4 separate regions of the Homo sapiens genome follow, and regions 1, 2 and 4 are each reported to be linked to region 3. Evidence: microRNA targets listed by miRTarBase, many of them from high-throughput screens and not tested one by one. Region 3 holds a microRNA gene; each other region holds the end of a gene's coding sequence.
Evidence for each region. Region 3 holds the annotated microRNA hsa-miR-3674 (AUUGUAGAACCUAAGAUUGGCC, at 3,422-3,443, shown strand). A microRNA usually pairs through its seed, bases 2 to 8, with sites in the 3' UTR of a target mRNA and lowers its output. Matches are read on the target gene's strand: a 7mer-m8 pairs with bases 2 to 8, a 7mer-A1 pairs with bases 2 to 7 and ends in A, and an 8mer does both.

Region 1 (5,179 bases), not on the chromosome of region 3:
TTTTAGAAAAGGGCTGGGAAGGAATGATTCAGGAGATTATAAAAAGGAAAAAGAGAACTGAGCAATGTCTTCATGAATGAATGGGAGAGAGATGGACTGAAGAATGGAACAGGGTACCCCTTTTTCAGTCTAAGGGAGACTTGAAGGTATTAGAAAACAGAGCAAGAGGCAGAGTGAATTAGACTGGAAGAAATTTTCAGAAATTAAAGGTATTTGAGGGAGTCTCTAGAGAGGTAAGCAAGAAAAACCTAAGCCTGGGGAGAGAGATTGGTTTCATGAAGAGTAAAGAAATACTTTTTAGGTTCAGATCTGCTGTCCTGGCAGCCACCACCCACTTAGGATTTGTAAATCAAGAGCACATTATGTGTTACATGCATAGACGGATTGCACTGACTGGATTTTTTTTGTGTGTGTATTCTTCTATTTCCCAGGAGAAAGACAGCTCTCATAGTGGAAGGAGTGTGGTCATTTAGTCACCAAGCACAGCACAACTTCTGTGGCTACTTCTCGGCTCCTGTGTGTCATCAGCATCACCTAGGTTTCCAGCTGACTTGGGAACTGCAAGTCTGAGTCTAACAGTTTTTGGCTTAGATTCTGAGAATCAAATAGAAGAATTTTAAATACAAGAGTTTGAGATTGGGTATAGTGGCTCACACCTGTAATCACAGCACTTTGGGAGGCTAAGAATCACTTGAGACTAGGAGTTCAAGATCAGCCTGGGAAACATAGTGAGACCCCGTCTCTACAAAAAATATAAAAATTAGTTAGGTGTGGTGGCATGCACTTGTAGTCCCAGCTACTCAAGAGGCTGAGGCAGAAGGATCCCTTGAGCCCAGGAGTGCAAGGCTGCAATGAGCCAGGATCCCATGATCACACATCTGTATTCCAGCCTGGGCAATAGAGCAAGTCCCCATTACTAAAAAACCCAAAAGGCCAAAAAACAAAAAAGTTAGAGTTCGAGGAATTACCAACTGTAGTTTTAGCCTTGGTTCATGCTCTCTTGCATATTTATATAATCTCTGACTTGTAATGGACCCTGACTGGAATGTGATCCCTCAGGAACTTAGTAGCCTGAGTCTTTCAGTAGACTACACTGCCCAGAACCCTGGCCATTCTCAAAATGAGAACTTGGGAATGTTTAAGAAGAAATCAAACATGTTTCAGGAAAAGGAAATCTATGGAGTATTATAGGGACATTCCCATGGGAATGTATCTTCCTCCATGGCATGTCTTGAGGGTCCTTTCTTGTTAGGAGTTTATCCTGCCAGCCCATAAATGGACTATTTATTGTAAGTGTAGAAAATCACAGAGAAGCAGTTTTGCACCAGCCTTATTCCTGTGCCTTGTTTTCCTCTTGCTCTTTTTTTACCTGTATATCTAATTTATATTTTCATATATATTGTGTATTGATTGAAGTCACTTTAAATCCTTCTTGGGAATGACACAGTATATAAATAAGGAAGAAAGAAAACATGCCAAGCTGAGCATGCTGCTCCAAATAAATATCTGCTTTCCTACTTTGGTGCATTTGATTGGATTAAGCCACCTTCACCACTAAAGTTCAGAGAAGACCCCGACCAACCTAGGGAGTTCTGGAGCTACCATTCTCCTGGCACTACTCAGCCTTTCAGAGTTGAGATTTCCCAAGCAGAAGCATCCAGGCAGGTCTTGCCACTCAGAGGGCCCCAGGAAGAAAGGACTGTATTTTCACTATAATAGGCTCTACCACCCCCTCCCATTTTTCGAAGCCCCTTTGGAGGCTTCATGAATCCATCTGTGCTTGACGGAGAGATCCACACTGAGCAGATTGGAAGGAGGTGGCCTGAGTGAAGGAGAGTATGTGTGTATGTTCTTTAACAGTATATCCTTACGTGCTCACTTTAGATCCCATTTATTGACACATCCATTTTCCCCCAGTCTCATTAATTTAATTACATGTGGAGAAAATAGGTTAAATTTCTGCATTAGGTAGACTTCTCTGGGATTTTTTGATTATTCATATTTAATTGGATCTAAATTAGCGAAAATATATATATATTTACAGATAATGTAGACGTAACATTCAGTAGGTGAGAGACTTCTGGTCTGGACAAGATGGCATTGTCCCATTTCCCCTGCTATGCCCTGCTAAGCACAACTTAATAAATTTTGGAAATGGTACAAGAGAAAACCAAAGGATTCTAAAGGGTGTTAAGAAGAAAGCAGGTTGGTTTGAAAACCCAGGACCAGAAGAACAGCACAGAGGCAGGGCATTTTATATCCCCCTATCAGAAGGTATTTCCTGACTTTCCATCTAGCAGCAGAAGGTAGCCCAGTAGCTCATTCTTCCCCCTGAACCTAATGGAGTCCCTCTGGCAACCTCAGGCAAGGGGACTGATTGAGAGTCCTACAAAAAAATAAGTGGACTGATTGAGAGGCCTACAAAAAAAATAAGTGACCAGGGGAAGCACCCTTATTCCCTGCTGGGTCAGAAACTCCTCTTTTCCAAGAAAAGATACTGAGGTGGACAGGAGGAGCTAGTAAGAGAAACCTAGGAAAAATAGGTGGTCCAGTTGGGGAAGCCTTTTTGCACAGGCCTAAGACTGTCCTCTCCTGCCCAGAGATACTAGGATTGGCTGGTAGAACCAGGAAAAGGGACCTGTCACAGACGACATCTCTGAAGCCAGCAACCTGGTCACAGAAGCCACGATGTGGAAGCAAGACTCTCCTCCCAGGCCCAGAGAAATCTGGGCAGCTAGAGGCATCTGCAGGATTTATCATAGCCCACCCTCACCAAGAGACACTTGGCAACCCAGCCAGGGAAATTCCTCCTGCCCTTTCAGGCAGCAGTAACAGAGACCAGTGGGAGCCCTACATAAACCAAGCAACTAAAATAACACTGCAAGGGCTCTGAAAATTAAGCTGCCATTAGAATTACAGCCCACAAAAGTAGGCTAAAACTGTATGCTAAACCTAAACAGAGTGATTCCTTGCAAAACAAAATATTTAAATAGAAATCAGTCTCCTAACATAATAGGCAAAATGTTCAGAGTGCAAATCAAGAAACAATAAAATCACAACTTGAGTGAAAAAGGAAATCAATGGATTCCAGCATTGAGATGAACCAGATATTGGAAATTATCTGATAAGAATTTTAAAGCAGACATCATAAAAATGCTACAACAATCAATTACAAATTCTCTTGAAACATGAAAAAACAGAAAAACCTCAGAAAAATAGAAATAGAAGTTTTATCAAAAGGAAACATGAAAATTATAGAACTGAAAAATACAAAAACTGAAAACTCACTGGATAGGCTTAATGGTACAGTAGAGATGATGGGGGATAAAAATCTGTGAACTTGAGGACAGAACAATAGAATTTACCCAATCTGAACAATAGAGAGAAAATAAACCGGAAAAAATAAACAGACCTCAGGGACCTATGGAACAATAACAAAATATCCAGCATTCATATTATCGGAGTAACAGAAAGTAAAGGAGAAAAAGGGTAGACATGAATATTTGAAAAAATAAGGCTGAAAACATTCCAAATTAGATAGAAGACACTAACTTAGAGATTCAAGAAGCCGGATGAATCCCACAGAAGAAAAAAAAAATCCATGCCCAGGCACATTATAATTTTTTGAAAACTAAAAACAAAGTCCTGGAAGCAGCAAGTGAGAAACAGTGCATTACTTGTAGGGGAACACCAATTTGAATGGATTTCTTATCTGAAACCATAAATAAGGAAGTGGCCAAATATTTTTTAAGGGATGAAAGAAAAGAATCATCTCCTATAATTCTAGATCTAGCAAAATTATCTTTTGAAAACAAACAAAACATTCTTAGAAATGAAGGGATTATAAAAACATTAACAGATGAATGAAAACTAAAAGATTTTGTGACTAGCCAATCTACCCATAAAAGACTAGCTAAAGGAAGTTCTTCAAATTATAAAAGAAGGAAACTTAGAACATCAGGAAGGAAGAAGAAACAATAGAGCAGAAATACTGGTTCATACAATAGACAATTTTTTCCTTATGGGTTTTAGAGAATATATTTTATGTTTGAAACAAAAATTGTAACACCATCTGATACTTAAAACAATGATATTTAAAGGTGGGGAAGCCAAAGAGACCTGAATGGAAGTGAGGTTTCCACACTTCATTTGAAGTGGTGAATATTGATACCAGTACATTGTTATAAGTAGCATGTGTAACACCCAGAGCAACCACTATGAAAACTATACAAAGTGACAAACTCAGAAGTATTACAAATAAATCAAGATGGAATCTAAAACATGTTTAAATAAGCTGCAGAAAGGCAAGAAAGATAAATAAGAACCAGAGGAGACAAATAGAAAATAAATAACAAAATAACAGACTAAAGTGCTAAAATATCAGTAAACACTGGACCTTAAATGTAAATGGTCTAAATATACCAATCAAAAGACAAACATTGGTAGACTGAGTTAAAAACCATCCATAATCCTATGTGCTGCATATAAGAAACTCATTTCAAGTTCAAACACAGGTGAGTTGAAAGTAAAAAAGGGTGGAAAAAGATATATCACATACACATTAATACTTTTTTAAAAAAACAGGAGTGGCAATAGTAGTGTTTGATAAAGTAGACTGCAAAGCAAAGAAAATTGCCAGAGACAAAGGGGATATTATATAATGATAAGAGGATCAATTAGGAAGACGCATTATACTAAATGTGTACAAACTAAACCACAGAGCCTTAAATACCTGAAGCAGCAATTGATAAAGCTGAAATGAGAAATAGCAGAATCTGTAATTATGGTTGGGAACTTCAACATCATTCTCCCCTTTCCCCAGTAACTAATAGAACTATGAAGTAGAAAAATCACCAGGATATGGAAAATCTGAGCAACACAATCAATCAACAGGGTCTAATTAACATTCATAAGACATACCACCTAACAATACATTTTTCTCAATTGCCCATGCACTAGTCATCAAATAGAAAAAGACATAAAATATATAGTAAAACAAACTTGACAAATTTAAAAGAATTGAAATCATGTGCTCTGGCCATAATGGAATTAAACTGAAAATCTCTAACAAAGACAACAGGAAACTCTTGAAACACTTGAAAATTAAATAACACACTTCTAAATAATCTATGGGTCAAACAGGGAGTCTCAAAGGAAATTAAAAGGATAAATGAAAACA
Region 2 (5,285 bases), not on the chromosome of region 3:
TACAATGGGAGGCAACAATTTTGAAATCTTTGTGACCCTTTTCCTTTGAAATTGAGCATCCCTTCCAGTACCTGCCAAAGACAGACTAGACCGTCCCTGGACGATAAGCTCCTCAAAGGCAGGTGCTGCTTTTGATCTTTTTGTACCTACTTCAGTGTGTAACAAACAGTGGCCACAGAACAAACACTTGCATGCTAAGGGAATGGATTCTCTAAAATTGATACTACTTTTGCTTTGGTGGTTTTCTTTAGGGCCCACTGATGATGGTGAAGAAGAGATGGAAGAAGACACAGTCACAAACGGGTCCTGAGCAGTGAGGCAGATGTATAATAATAGGCCCTCTTGGAACAAGTCTTGCTTTTCGAACATGGTATAATAGCCTTGTTTGTGTTAGCAAAGTGGAATCTATCAGCATTGTTGAAATGCTTAAGACTGCTGCTGATAATTTTGTAATATAAGTTTTGAAATCTAAATGTCAATTTTCTACAAATTATAAAAATAAACTCCACTCACTATGCTACCAAGTTGTGTGTCATCATGGTGCATTTGCAGTGAGGTCTAAGGACACGTTGAAATTGGAAATGCAGGAGGGCAGCGTTTTCTCGGTAGGCTTCCTGGGCTGGATTAGCGTCTGGCTCCTGCAGTGTCATGACACATGCCAGGAAGGCCGCCTTTTCCACTCCCACATAGCCCTTCTGTTAGTGCAGACTTACCTGTCGCTCCGGCTTCTGATAGGACAACTGAAATGATTCCATTTTTGAAATTGATTGGTGTGTCCCACCAAACCTGGCTATGTTTTTTGTTTTTTTCTCCCCCGCCCCCAGGCTGGTCTCCAACTCTGGCTTCAAGTGATCCTCCCGCCTTGGCCTCCCAAGGGAGTACAGGCCTGAGCCACCATACCCAGCCTTTAGTTTTATATATGTACATAGTTAACATAAAGGTCATATGGAGAGTCTACAAGAACATTTGTTGAAAGGGGCGTAAGTTACTCATATTTGAAGAACACTACTGTTTCATTGCCATCTCTCTGATCCCCCTTAGCCACGACAGTCTTAATCCCATCTTGTTGCATATACTTTTGTGAAAAGCTTGGCACTTTATCAGTTAGCTCTTGCTGCAATAATGCTGTATAACAATCCACCCGAAAACTCAGGGTTTTGTTTGTTGTTTTTTTTTTGAGACGGAGTCTTGCTCTGTCCCCCAGGCTGGAGTGCAGTGGCGCGATCTCGGCTCACTGCAAGCTCCGCCTCCTGGGTTCACAGCATTCTCCTGCCTCAGCCTCCCAAGTAGCTGGGACTACAGGCGTCCGCCATCACGCCCGGCTAATTTTTTGTATTTTTAGTAGAGATGGGGTTTCACTGTGTTAGCCAGGATGGTGTCAATCTCCTGACCTCATGATCCTCCCGCCTCGGCCGCCCAAAGTGCTGGGATTACAGGCGTGAGCCACCACGCCTGGCCAAACTCAGGGGTTTTAATCAACAACACTATTATGTAGTTGGCTCTGCTTATCACTGTAGGTCTGGATTAACTGGGGTGGCTTGGTTTCTTTACAGGTCTCAGATAAGCCAGCTCACCCGGCAAAGGCACAAGAAATAAACACTAGGAGCTTCTTAAGGCCTACCTACACTCAAAACTGACACACTTATTTCTGCCCACTTGATATTAACCAAAGCAAGCCACCTCGCCAAGTACAAAGTCAAAGGATGATGGGGAAATATACTCCTTTGACCTTGCCATAGCAAGGATATGGCTGTGAGAAGGAGTGACAAATTAGGGCCACTCTTTCAGCCTCGGCCAATCATTTAGCCTACAACAGTCAGTGATAGGTGGCAGCCCTGGTTACTGTCCACCTTTGTCCTCTTTTTGCAAATAATACCTGAGCAATTACATTGAGCAAAGTGTTTGTTGAAATACCTTTCCAGTTCTAGACAAGCCAAGCCAGGTGAGGTTATAACACCTGATTAAAGGGACAAAGGTAACAAATTCCTGGCTAGGATGAGTAACTTCTATCAATAGGACCATAAGATCAATGTGCTAGGAACTGAAAAGCCATCATCCATGCATTCAAATAATATCTATTAGATTTTAGTGGAATATATGCATTATATGTATATATGTATACAATAGTTCACAATAGTTTACAAGGATACTTTGGTTTTCTATATGCTTAGAATGTGCATTATTTTCATGAGTTAATACTGGTTTCCATTTTATATCGCAAAGTCCTGAGTGAAAAGGATTGTTGCCTTTTTTTAATGATAGAACCTAAAATGTTACAATTTATTCCATCTTTGTGATTACAGACATTACAGGATAAGGTAGCTAAACAAGGCAAATAAAGCAAACGTTCCCTTCATTTAATCAGATGCAACATTTTGGCATTTTTATACTGTGCACGTTGACTTTAATTCATTGACATGGATTGAAAGCCGGCAACAACAAATCTTTGCAATTTAGGATCTTCTTCCATAACTAAGTTTTGTGGGTTTTTTTTCTTTTCTTTTCTTTCTTTTTTAGACAGTCTTGCTCTGTCATCCAGGCTGTGGAGTGCAGTGGTACAATCTTAGCTCACTGCAACCTCTGCCTCCCAGGTTCAAGCGATTCTCCTGCCTCAGCCTCCCTAGTAGCTGGGATTACAGGCGCCCGCCATCACACCTGGCTAATTTTTGTATTTTTAGTAGAGACAGGGTTTCACCATGTTAGCCAGGCTGGTCTTGAACTCCTGACCTCAGGTGATCCATGCACCTCGGCCTCCCAAAGTGCTGGGATTACAGGCGTGAGCCACCGTGCCTGGCCAAATTTTTTTGTAGAGATGGGATCTTGCTGTGTTGCCCAGGCTGGTCTTGAACTCCTGGCCTCAAGTGATCCTCCTGCCTCAGCCTCCTAAAGTGCAATAGGATTACAGGCAAGAGCCACCACTCCTGGCCCACTGCAACATTCTTGAAGCTCTCAAGTCTTCATCTGACACCTTGTCAAGATGGGGAACTCTTGTGTTAAACCATCCTGTTAAGTTACTGTATAAAAATAAAACTGCTCCCAAGCATTGATTGAAACTGTTTTGGTATGAGTTTCCTGAGAGAAAAGTGAGGCCCTAACCATTTTTTTCCATGAACTATGACCCCAGTACGGTATACCTAATGTCCTTCACAGCCTAACAAAATAGTTGAGGCAACCCTGCTCATCCTGTCTAGTTTATCAGTATTTAGATGTAAGGCGGATTTAAAGCTAATCTGGGACTGAGAATTGCAACTAATTCCATAGAAGTCATTCAATTTAGCACATAAATGTTCCTGCAAGATGCCAGAGCAAGTGAGAAATCATCTGTAGCAAAGCAAAGAGTGGTGATGGTTCATCACCTTTTACAACGGAAAGGCAAACATGAAGAAGGAAATTCTCCCTCCTAAAATTCCTCATTAAATCGATAAGCTATCTTCACAGCCTTTATGGATAACATCCAGAGTCCTCGGTTCATCTGAGGAGTCCATTTTCAAGGTGGCCAACAGGGAAGAAGAGCTTTCAGGCTTCTCTTTGCTATGGCTCATGAATGCCAGGTCCCCTTTATTGCTTTCTGAACACACTGCTGGGAAAGCTTGATGAGGTCAGTGCTCAAATCCCTGCAGCTGTCCCCCTTGAGGAACTTCTTGGCAAACCTGCATTGAAGAAACACTGATTGCGTTCACGCTTCATGTCATGGTTTGCCTTCCCCACACTGCTCCTGGCGACAGTGGTGACGCAGCACTCGGATGTTGTCACCTATTCATTATTTTTTCAGTTCTATTCCCAATTCCCAACCCTTCTTTTGAAACACAGCTAGGTATGTGCACTTCAAATGCTCCAGAAAAACCCAAGGTCACATTTCAAATAGGATGGTTATGGTCACCATAAAGGTGGTGACGTTTGAGTGGTGGAAGAGGGTGCGGGACGGCGTTGCAGGCAGAGGAACACAGCCAGGACACTATTATAAGTAACTCTGTGATCGTGTCTTGTGGTGATACAGTATAATTCAACACAGGTTAGAGCAGTTACTATGATCGTTCTTTCCTAAAAGGCTTTGATTTTGGAGAAAGAACCTTGAGGATCGGTGGGGACTTTCTTGGCCTGAAAGGTATCACCAGCAGCAGGAGCAGGAGGCTGCTCACATTTCGTGTCTTCACTTGGGGTGGACGTTGGCTGCAACCCTCAAATGCTGGGAGTCGTCAACCAACTGAGCCCTGTTGTCCAATGTGCCCCGGGCAAGGATGTGGGTGCAAATCCTGCTTCCGGGCGACCACTGACTTCCTTGGCTTCAGTGTCCAATTAGAAAAAAAAAAGAAAGTAGAAATTCGGTAAGAAATCCGTGAACGAGGTCCGTCCTCCACCCCCGACTCAAGCCAAGAGATAGCACAGAACGTTCCCACACGCGCTGTCCCGGCCCCGGCGAGCGTAGCCGGGATTTCTCCCCCGCCACGCCCCTCGGCCACGCCCCCCTGCGTTTGGCCCAGCGACGGGGCGGGGTCGGCCTGCGATTGGCCGGGACCACGACCGCGTCCGGGCGCGCCACGTGTGCGTAGGAGCGCACCGGAAGCGCCCGGCTGGAGGCGCGGCGGCAGGGCTGGGCGGCGGCGGCGGCGGCGGTCATGGAACGCCAAGAGGAGTCTCTGTCCGCGCGGCCGGCCCTGGAGACCGAGGGGCTGCGCTTCCTGCACACCACGGGTGAGTCGTTGCGGGGCAGCCGGGCGCGCGCCGCCACTTTTGCGACGCGCAGCCATGATGGGTGGGTCGTCCGCCGCTGCACCGGGCGCCGGAGCCTGGGAGGCCTGGGAACGGTCGGGCGTTGGCGCTTACGCGGACCTTGGGCAGCAGGCCCGGACCTTGCGCGGAGGCTTCTCGGGAGCCGCACTTCCCTGGGCGGCTCGGCTGTCCCTTGTTTGCGCAAGTCTTTTTTGCGAACCAAGCCCTTCCTGTGGTAGTTACTGGGGTCACTCGGCCGTTGGCGTTTGCCTCTGGGACCCGTCCCACACAGCCCCATACACACTCCTGACTCCCCGCGCTGTCACCCCTTTCTATGTGGCTCTGAAAGGCCTTTGCCTTCCTGATTCAGATTAGTTGCTCTTCATTCTTCAAAACCCAGTTGCTGTGCCCTCCACACTCTAACTGCCCCCGACTCCCCAGATGGTTGGGAAGTCTCACTTCTCAGTGATCCCTGAATTGTCGCACTTCTTGAGTTCGTGTTTTAACGATCTACTTAGGAGGCTTTTTCCTCAGCCTAGACCATGAAGGCTTTGAGGGCAGGAGTTACACTTTGT
Region 3 (5,331 bases):
TGGTTGGATGAGTGTTCGTGTACCAGTCACTAATTTGATCCCAGAGTCTCCACTAGAGACAGGAGATGCCTCTGCACACACTGACACACACCGAGTGTCACAGCAATTCCACTGGTGGGAGACAGACACCCCGGAGCATTTCAACAATCGCTTTTCTCTGTTGAAGTTTTCTTCTGCCCCATTCACTGTCTCCTCTGACCACACAATTTGGTTTTGCCTCTTTCTCCATGTCGAAGGCTTCCTTGTGTCTGGTGGTCTTCGACTATTTATTTCTCAGCATGAGGCACTGAGAAAGGATGTGGAACCCCGGGTGTGCGTGTGTGTGTGTGTGTGTGTGTCTGTGGCATAAGGAGGTTTGCCTGTGGGACCGGGGATAACCAGGGAGGCGCGTGGGTCTCATACTGAGGAACTCTTGAATCACGCAGATTTTTCTCATGGGTGTGTTTCCCTGAAAGGAATTCTGGGGTCCCTGGGGTGCGGGGCGGAAGGATCTGTCATGCTGTCCCCTGGGGTGCGGAGCGGAAGGATCTGTGATGCTGTCCCCTGGGGTGTGCGGCGAGAGGATCTGTCATGCTGTCCCCTGGGGTGTGCGGCGAGAGGATCTGTCATGCTGTCCCCTGGGGTGTGCGGCGAGAGGATCTGTCATGCTGTCCCCTGGGGTGCGGGGCGGAAGGATCTGTCATGCTGTCCCCTGGGGTGCGGGGCGAGAGGATCTGTCATGCTGTCCCCTGGGGTGTGCGGCGAGAGGATCTGTCATGCTGTCCCCTGGGGTGCGGGGCGGAAGGATCTGTCATGCTGTCCCCTGGGGTGCGGGGCGGAAGGATCTGTCATGCTGTCCCCTGGGGTGCGGGGCGAGAGGATCTGTCATGCTGTCCCCTGGGGTGTGCGGCGAGAGGATCTGTCATGCTGTCCCCTGGGGTGTGCGGCGAGAGGATCTGTCATGCTGTCCCCTGGGGTGTGCGGCGAGAGGATCTGTCATGCTGTCCCCTGGGGTGTGAGGCGGAAGGATCTGTCATTCTGTCCCCTGGGGTGCGGAGCGGAAGGATCTGTCATGCTGTCCCCTGGGGTGCGGAGCGGAAGGATCTGTCATTCGACTGCCACAACTCTTGGATCCAAGTAGGCAAAGGCCACTGTTCTTTCACTCCTCCTGCTTCCCATTGCTGCCTCAGGATCTCCATGACAGTGTCTTCTGGCCGATTCCTCCTGGGCCCTCCGAGCTGGGCTGGGGCTGCCACCTGCCCTCCTGGGTGTGGAGCAGGACCTGGTGATCCTGTGCCTCCTGCTTTCAGCCTCGCCTGATGTCCCCTTTCAGAGATGCCTGAAAGGCTCTCCCTGTAGCTCCGGTAGCCTCCTCTGGTTGGCCTCACCGGTGCCCATTCGTCCATCATCTGTCCATCTGCCTCCAGCCCTCAGACTTTGCCATGGCCCTCTGCCTTTCACTGTCTTGGCACTGGACCATTGTATTCCTCCTCCTGCTCCTCCTTCTTCTTCTCCTCCTCCTCCTCCTTCTTCTTCTCCTCCTCCTCCTTCTTCTCCTCCTCCTCCCCCTCCCCCCTCCCCCTCCCCCTCCCCGTCCCCCTCCTCCTCCTCCCCCTCCTTCTCCTCCCCCTCCTCCTCCTCCTCCTCCAATTCTTGTTCTTCTTCTTCTTCTTCTTCCTCTTCCTCTTCCTCTTCCTCTTCCTCTTCTTCTTCTTCTTCTTCTTCTTCTTCTTTTTCTTCTAAATGGAGACAGGGTCTCACCATGTTGCCCAGGCTGGCCTTGAATTCCTGGCCTTGAACAATCCTTTTGTCTCGGCCTCCCAAAGAGCTGGGATTACAGGTGTGAGCCACTACACCCGGCCATGCCTTCTATCTTCTTTCTCTACTTTCAACACTTAAATATTTTTAGCCAGGTTTCAGCAGGAAATGGATGGACATGAGGGCTCTGTCTGCCTGTTGGACCAGAAGCCCTTGCATCTGATCTAAACAAACCCCTTCTTGCCTTTGTTAGGGTTTCTGCTTGGTTTTATTCACAAAATTGACGTCTCAACTCTAATATTTATGTTCTTGTCACAGACAACTGTGATAGACTAATCAGTTACCTAATTGTCCTAAACCCAATCTTTTAATAAAATCTGGTTTCTTAGGACCTGGAGCGACAGGTTTGCGAGAAAGCTCCTCCCTGGATGAGGCCAAGAGCGTGGGAGTGAGTTCCAGGCTCCCAGAAGTGGGAAGTATTTTGGAAGTATTTTGGATTTAGGCGGTAAAGAATTCCCTATAAAAATAGCTGAACAGATTGGCCTCATATCACTGTGGGACTTTCTTGGAACATGAGGTGAGGTTATGGGTTGGCTTGCAAATAAAACCAAACACATTTCCCAATGAGGGAATGGGGCTGTGGTTAGGATGGGATCCGTGGGGGTTCTGGGGTGCTGGCAGGGCTCTGCTTGTGATCTGGTTACATAGCTATTTGCTTTATAATCATTTAGTAAATGTGTGATTTGTGAATTCTTCTGCATATGTTTTATTTCACAATAAAATGTCAACTTTTTTTTAACAACTAAGCAAAGTTAAGAACAATGCAGTGTAATTTCCTCGGAAATACGCTTTGACAGTTATTTAATTGGGCAAGTGGAAAATTACTTTTTATGAAGATGGTTTCTGCATATCATGAAAATGCCGTGTGCTGAACCATGCAGTAAGTGAAAGCGTCTAGATAAGGGCAGCCATTTGTTCTTCCCGATAAGGCACTCTCTACTGTTTTCTCTGGAATCAAACTGGCACGCCTGATGACTGGTGTTTTTATAAATCAGTGAGTATTTACATGTCTCAAACAGGCAAGTTTAAAACCACAAAGTCAGGGGCATGTTAAAAATTTGACTTCGGGTCTTAACGATCCACTGATCTTTTCATTTCTTCATTTTGGGTCCGGCTGCTTTGCATGAGGATGTTTTTCTCCCGTCTCTTATTGCCTGGCTTACAGGAGAGTTGGGTGATAGGAACACAAGGAGCAGAGAACGCACTGGCCTCTGACAGCCGCTCTGTGCAGATTCAGTCCTTCAGCCACCCGCAGGAATTGCCGCCAGAGTAGGACATGTCTTCTACCCTCTTGGAAGTGATGAAACCACCTTTCAGAAATTACAGCAGTGAGAAAACTATGACGTTGAAAGATACCTGATCTAACCAACCCCCATCCTGCCTTTGACCTCCAAACTGTCTTTCATCACTCCTAGGCCTGGGCCAAACTAATTTTGGAAGATATTTATAGTTTAAACGATAATAGCCCTTCTCCCGAACTGAACTGCCTGTGTAAAGCTAATGAAAGGCCAGTAGGTTAGGAGGATGAGAGGAGCCTGGATTCTGCTAAAATATAGATGTAAACGACGACCAGCCATTACTCTGGAGGTCACAAGATTTGCAGCTTCTGCAGATAAACATCACTATTGTAGAACCTAAGATTGGCCGTTTGAGATGTCCTTTCAAGTTTTTGCATTTCTGATGTCCGACTGATCCTGTGGCCCCACTCAGAAGCGGACTCCCTGGCCTGCTAAACTACCCTTGAAATACAGTAGCCTCCAAATTTTCAGGGAAATTGATTTAAGTAATGGTCAGGCCTCTGAGCCCAAGCCAAGCCATCGCATCCCCTGTGACTTGCACGTATATGCCCAGATGGCCTGAAGTAACTGAAGAATCACAAAAGAAGTGAATATGCCCTGCCCCACCTTAACTGATGACATTCCACCACAAAAGAAGTGTAAATGGCTGGTCCTTGCCTTAAGTGATGACATTACTTTGTGAAAGTCCTTTTCCTGGCTCATCCTGGCTCAAAAAGCTCCCCCACTGAGCATCTTGCGACCCCCACTCCTGCCCGCCAGAGAACAAACCCCCTTTGTCTGTAATTTTCCTTTACCTACGCAAATCCTATAAAACGGTCCCACCCTTATCTCCCTTCGCTGACTCTCTTTTCGGACTCAGCCCGCCTGCACCCAGGTGAAATAAACAGCCATTTTGCTCACACAAAGCCTGTTTGGTGGTCTCTTCACACGGACGCGCATGAAAGGAATAACTCCATCTCCCACGTGGCGTGGCTGGCCTCGTGTCAGTTAAACTTTCTTTATTGCAACACCATGGTTTCAGTGAATTGGTTTTCTCTGTGCAGTGGGCAGGAGTTTTAATTTCTTAATTTTGTAGCCAGCCTTCAGGCGGTGACAGTGATTGGACAATCACTTTAGTAGCATGAGATACTGAGGCTACTGCACTCGGATGGAATGGGCAGGAAACATGACTTGAATGCACCATGGACTCTACACCAGCATCTGTCCCCTGCAAAAGGGGCTCTGGGAACTAGAACAGTCATTCCCACCTTCTGAGCGCATTAGATCACTGCAGGGAGCATTGGAACGTGCTTTCCTGGGCCGCTCTGGGCCCAGGCTCCCATGTGAGCATCCGTTTTAAACCAAAAATAAAATTCCGAAAACCAAAAGCCCCCCATCCAACTGAATGGACCCCTACTCTTGGCCAAGAGGATTCCAAACAAACCTGAAAAACAAGTCAGGCCGGACGGGAAGGGGAGGGTCTGATACGCCTCATTGTATCCTCTCCCTTTGGGGTCAGGAACAGCCGATGGCATTAACATTAACACAGAGACCTTCGGACTGACCAGACAGGCTCTGGAAGTGATAGGAACAAGGCCTAGGGTGCAGGAGGAGCCTCGAGGGCTCAGCTGGGCTAGCCTGGGTGGAGGGGCCACAAGAAACCCCTGAAATGACAGAGGTCAAGTTTCATGGCCAGAAAGACTGGAGTCAGAGTGAGGAAGGGGGATGCAGTGGCCAGCCTTTGCTGGGAGCTGCCTCTGTGGCCACACCCAAAACTCCTCCCCCTGCATCGGCCACTCCAGTCCTTACGGTGGAACCACAGGCTCTTGTGAAAGGAAGATAAATCTCGAGACCCCAAGTCACTAAGCCAAAGGGAAGAATCAAGCTGGGAACTGCATCAGGGAATCCCGCCTCCCATTTTACTTAAAACTGCAGATGCAGGCTGGGCATAGTTGTTCACACCTGTAAGACCAGCACTTTAGGAAACTGAGGCAGGAGGATTGCTTGAGTCCAGGAGTTTGAGACCATCCTGGGCCATGTAGCCAGGCCCTGTCTCTAAAAAATAAGAAAAAAATGCAGATTCACTAAGCCAGACTAAGGCAAGAGTGACTGTTCCTCTACCCCCCTTTCACATGTAAATTGTGTATTTGGTGAAAGAAGGGCTAATCCCAGACTCAAAAGAATGCAACTGTTTGTCTCTTATCTGCCTGTGACCTGGAAGCCCCCACTTTGAGTTGTCCCATCTTTCCAGACCAAA
Region 4 (5,331 bases), not on the chromosome of region 3:
GCAAACACCCACTGCTTAAAAGTCATCTGCCACCCAAATCAAAACACTATGAAATTAATAAAATTTGGAGAAAAATGTGTAGGTAGCAGTAAAGAAGCTGAATATATATATAGATAGATAGACAGATACATAGACAGACAGACAGATAGATAACCCACTATGCTCCACAAAGGATATGGCGTGGCCAAACGGCTGCTTGAGATCTGCTCTAAACAATGACCTCAGTGTCATTCTCATCATTTTCGTCCTCTTCCCTTGCCTCCCCCACACTGGAGTACTTCCTCTGTAGATCTTCACAGCCCTGGTCGTTTCCTTGCTGCATGACTGCAAAAGCATCCTTCCAGCACCTCTTCCTTCTCTTCTGAAACTCCCTCAATAGTGCAGTCGGGGATTCTGTCCCCATATCAAAGCAGATCAAGATCAAGTTCATTTCAGTGACAGCTTCACTCCTTCCCTACAGCCTTTCCCAGGCCCACTCTCAGCTCTTCCTTCCACGCCATTTGCCTGGGTAGCTGCCCTGCCTTCAAAGTCACTTCAGAAGTTGACGTCTCCCCAAGATATTGCATTTCCAAACATGCAACTTCTTCTGGGTGCCTAATTCATTTATGTCTTTTGAACAAATTTTTTTCTTTTTGAGACACAGTCTTGCTCTGTCGCCCAGGTTGGAGTACAGTGGTGCAATCTCAGCTCACTGCAACCTCCACCCCCCGGGTTCAAGCAATTATCGTGCCTCAGCTGGGACTACAGGCATGCGCCACCACACCCAGCTAGTTTTTGTATTTTTTTGTAGAGACGGGGTTTTGCCATGTTGCCTGGGCTGGTTTTAAGCTCTTGATCTCAAGTGATCCACCTGCCTCAGCCTCCCAAAATGCTGGGATTACAGGCGTGAGCCACCGCGCCTGATCTCTTCGAATGAATTTTATTGACACTTAAACCATGTTATTTATCGGTATCTTCCATCTTCTATACCCACTCGTGCTATCTTAGATTCTAAAATCTCAGAAGGCAAGGCTCATGTCTGCTGGGTTATTTGGTGCCAGAGACACCAGAAAGTCGGGAGCAGAAAGATGCTTAATAAATGCAATCGGAAAATTGGTGAAGGAAGTGAAATTAAAGCAAAATGGGAGTGAGGAAACTGAGTCACACCGAGCTTTCGGTTTTGCTCATTACCCATGTGTGAACCCATTCACCGCAGTAGTGCAGCGTTTCACATCACTCATCCTAGGGCGTCCACATAGACAGCATGCTACATTTTCACAGTGCTTTATGCTCCCTCCTCACAGGACATCTGCACACATGATCACATCTGATTCTCACAACTACGGTGCCTGGGAGGTGGCGGGGGAGGTCTGTTCTTGTTTGGCTTATGGGGAGAATGAAGTTCAGAGAAGGAACCAGACATGGTCAGTGAGTGACAAAGTAGTCTCTGAAAAAAAAAAAAACAACATTTCTCCAAACATTCTGACTCAAATTTACAGTTTGTGTTACCACTAGAACTTTTAAAATAGGAAAAAAGAATAGACATAAAATTCAACTGTTCATTGTAGAGTGCTTCCATAAACGGACTCCAAAGCCACACGCTGTCAACGCAAGGACCCTTCCTTTCAGTGGATGACGTGAACTTAATGTCTGAAGACCGCTAGGGTACGGTGCTGCTCACACAGCTAGTTTTTTCTGAGTTTGGTGACTGGCAAAACTGTTGTGGCAGGCGTCGAGAGGAAGCAAGTACAAACTGTGTGTGCTTTATGACCACCAGCAGAGGGCTGGTGATCCGGGGGCCTGCTCACACCACACCATAACCACCGGCTGTTTATTATACATCATCTTTGGTCTTGACATCTGTTTAAAGGTGTATTGTTTCTAAGAATAAAAATACAGTTAAAATCCCTTTATGGTAGTTTGAAAGACATCAAAATTGCTTTTACGGTCAGCCCAATTTGAAACAGAACCCTCTTTCTGCAATGCTCAAAGGAGGTTACCATTTTTAGCACACTCTATGTGCAAGCCTGTATGGCCCTGAGCGGAACTGGGTGAGAAGGGGCCATTTATCCCGTTTGCTGTCACACGATTTGAATTCATTACAAGGTGTCCATAATAAAATTCTGCTTGGATATCTGAAATTCTTAATAACATATTCAGGAAACCTGGTATTTTTGAGTGACATACAAAGATAATCGTTCAATTTGGGAGGAGTCGGGTATTAAACCAAGACCAAGAGAAATTTGGTATTAAACCAAAACCAAGACATCAAGCCCAGAAAGGGGCATTCTCTCCAATGCTCCTTGGAGCCTCTGAGGATCGCCTGATAAGATGCTGCTGGTCCTTTGTTGAACGTCCTTGAGAGACTTACTCTCCTGCACTCCTTCTCTTTCAGAGGTGCCCAGATGAAAACTGGCTACATCTTACCTTCCCAGAACCAACTTCCCTCATATTGTAAGACTCTAAATCTGTACAACAGGCTTCATTAATGAAGGGCTAAAACATGGTTTTGAAATCCAGTGATTACACTTTGGAAACCTGTTTTAGCTGTTTCAGGGGTCTTAAAACTTGACACAGATACACAGGTTTTGATCAGTCAGAGCCCCAAATTCTATAGCCCCTTATCTGTTATTTAATGAAAAGTACAGTCATGCACACATCAGGATGTTTTGGTCAATGACGGTCTACATATTGATGGTAGTCCCATAAGATTATAAAATTGTATTTTTACCATACCTTTTCTATGTTTAGCTATGTTTAGATACACAAATACTTACCATTGTGTTCAGTACAGTAACATGCTGTACAGGTTTGTAGCCTAAGAGGAATAGGCCATGCCACACAGCCCAGGTGTGTAGTAGGCTATACCATGTAGGTTGTGTAAGTACAATCTAGGATGTTGGCACAGCAACAAAACAGCCTAATGACACATTTCTCAGAATGCATCCCCATCATTAAGCGATGCATGACTGTCTTCGCTGATCTAATAAAAACAGGTTAATAGTGAAAATCTCTTAGCTAAGCCTGCTTTTCTTCTGAGTTTCACTCAGGTACCAGAAAACAGAACAGCCCTTGCCACTGTTTTCTTTACCATTATTTGGAAAGTGGGGGAAATGTTTACATCAGGAGTACATCTTAAGCGAGATGATCCCCTCTTAGCCCAAAGAGCATAAGACAATTTTAATAGCCACTCGACAGAGTAACAGCACAATAAAATCAGAAATGAGAAGCAACTCTCTCCTTTCCCTTGGGGTCTCAAAGCTCTTTTACATTTCTTGATTCATTACAGAGAGGCTGAACTGAACTCAATTTCATTTCCAGGCTCTGAACACAGGGAATGTGACTGGTAGGGATGTATGTATAACAATTTCGTGGTGCTGGGAATTATTAAATAACTTCTGCTTACAGAAGATTTCTCATTCAGACATAATTTGTGAACAAATCAACAGCAAAGTGGAAGAAAGGATCAGTTAGGACCTCTTGAAAGCCGCATTCTACAGGATCGGCCTTAGCGATCGGTGCTGAACTGGGACATGACCAGGAGTTGTGTGTGCCCAATTAAGAAACAGCAAATACAATGAAGAATGTAGATCTAAACTTTGATCTGTATTTTGGATAATCAAATAAATATAAAGCTTTTTGCCCCACTTTGGGAGGGATTTTTTTTTTCTAGAACAAAATGAAACCTTCAACATATTCTTCCACTGAAAAAGCCAAAGTTCCATTTCAGACATGAAGGTGAAGGGCCCTTGGAGCTGTAGCACCAGAAGAAGGAGGAAGAATGCGGGTGATGGCTTTGTTTGGAGTCATCAGGCTCTACAACCTATCATTTGGTTTCTCACTAGTAGCTTTTTAAAATTCCCAAACAGTCTTAGTATTCTTGTTGTTAATGTTACTATTAAAATAAGTTCCTATGGAGTAAAAGAGAAAAATTAAGCTGTTAATAAAATGTCTTCAAACCTCTTCTCAGAAAACAAAGCAGCAGGTTCATCGTACACGTACCAGTCTCAATCCCACAGAAACGCTTGGTTCCTTTCATCCCTATGCTGTCTATACAGTTTAATCTCTACCTTTAAAAAAGAGACGAATGCAGTCATTTTGTTAGCTTAGGTTTGTGTTTTGTTTTTGTGAAGTGCTGCTGGCTTTTGGCCAAAATACATATATTTCAACTGAACCCAAGTGTTCAGACAATTGCCAGCCCAGTGAAAGGCTCATGAGCTGTCACACGACGTATGGCATCTTCTAAATTGCAACTTGCTCCCTCCCTTGGGCAGGCTGCCCGAGAGTTGCTCCTTCCTCTTCCAAACACCCACTCAGTTGATTTCCTTTTGGTCTTGCTTCCACAGGAAGCGGATACTTGGCAAATCTGCGAGGCGAGGCCGATCAGCTGTGGAAGTTCTGCACGGTGCTCTGTTTCTGGGAGAGCCGGAGGAGCTCCTCGCGGATTGCTTTGATGAGAGAGGCCGAGGAGTGGCCAGGCTGGAGGTCTTCCGTGGAGCTGGTGGGGTAACCCAGCCCAGGGCCCTGCAGTCCCCGGTGGGGGAGGTTCCCGGAAGGAGCTGAGGGCTCCCTGCCTGAAGTCCTTGGCACCTGAAATAGCGGTGAAGAAGAATACTCTTGATGTCCGAGCATGTGTGTCTGAAAAACATGGCAAACGTCACTGTACTTCCTACGAAGAATAAGCCGAAACATCAAATGCAAACTGGCTTTAGGAAGGTTCCCAGGACTGCCCACGTCCATCCACCAACTCAGCCCTCTAACAGGGCCCTGCTGCCTATGCTGCAGGTGAGGCGTGAAGACACCAGGGGGCTGGGGAGAACAGAAGGGAGGGAGGCTGGAGTGCCCCATGATGTGAAAGGTCGGGTGATATCTGAGAGCTGAAGGAGGTTAAGCGGATCCATGCCAGGCTGACAAGGGGAACAGGTGCCTCTGCCCTGGACTGGAGCCTACGCAACCATCTTCTGCTTTATCTAGCTGCTGTCTGTCTCCTGTCTCTGCGTGAGTGTGTGTCTACTGAGGGCTCTGTAGAGCCTTGTCTTTAAAAACTTATCTGCACTAAAGCATAAAATAGTTTTGCTGATATTTGCCGCATAGAGATTAATTTGGCAGGAGTTTCACAAGAATTATTACACTTTTCAGATTTTTTTTTCATGTTTATTTCTCTCCCAGTGGAAATAAATGTCTCTTTGCATTTATATGTAAGAGTACTTAAATCTGCGTACTAAAAACCATGTTAGGGCTAAGTTATTTGTGAGCCAAACATGACATTCCAGCTCTAGGTTCTTTCTACGTTTCACTTCTCCAAATAGTGACCGAGCAGTGTTCCAAAGTGGATGTGACAGGAAAACCTTA

Region 1: miRTarBase lists ILDR1 as a target of hsa-miR-3674. Seed matches in the 3' UTR shown: 8mer at 742-749.
Region 2: miRTarBase lists SNRPA1 as a target of hsa-miR-3674. Seed matches in the 3' UTR shown: 8mer at 483-490.
Region 4: miRTarBase lists KIAA1549 as a target of hsa-miR-3674. Seed matches in the 3' UTR shown: 7mer-A1 at 2,790-2,796, 7mer-m8 at 1,542-1,548 and 8mer at 784-791.

Annotation. Positions count from the first base shown.
Region 1 is chr3:121,983,661-121,988,839 of GRCh38, reverse strand. It overlaps ILDR1 (immunoglobulin like domain containing receptor 1), which reads left to right. Exons shown (of 8, transcript NM_001199799.2): 8 at 432-1,517. The coding sequence ends at 473. It overlaps LOC101927010 (a long non-coding RNA gene), which reads right to left and starts at 661. Exons shown (of 2, transcript XR_241555.5): 1 at 1-661.
Region 2 is chr15:101,276,749-101,282,033 of GRCh38, reverse strand. SNRPA1 (small nuclear ribonucleoprotein polypeptide A') reads left to right here. Exons shown (of 9, transcript NM_003090.4): 9 at 252-524. The coding sequence ends at 310. SELENOS (selenoprotein S) reads left to right here and starts at 4,549. Exons shown (of 6, transcript NM_018445.6): 1 at 4,549-4,692. The coding sequence starts at 4,617. RefSeq lists a silencer at 4,344-4,673.
Region 3 is chr8:1,797,712-1,803,042 of GRCh38, forward strand. It overlaps MIR3674 (microRNA 3674), which reads left to right and starts at 3,414; the gene lies at 3,414-3,481. RefSeq lists enhancers at 2,345-3,544, 3,378-4,039, 4,700-5,331.
Region 4 is chr7:138,833,544-138,838,874 of GRCh38, forward strand. It overlaps KIAA1549, which reads right to left. Exons shown (of 20, transcript NM_001164665.2): 20 at 1-4,617. The coding sequence ends at 4,363. Among named protein-coding and RNA genes, the nearest start is that of ATP6V0A4, 38 kb to the left of the region's middle.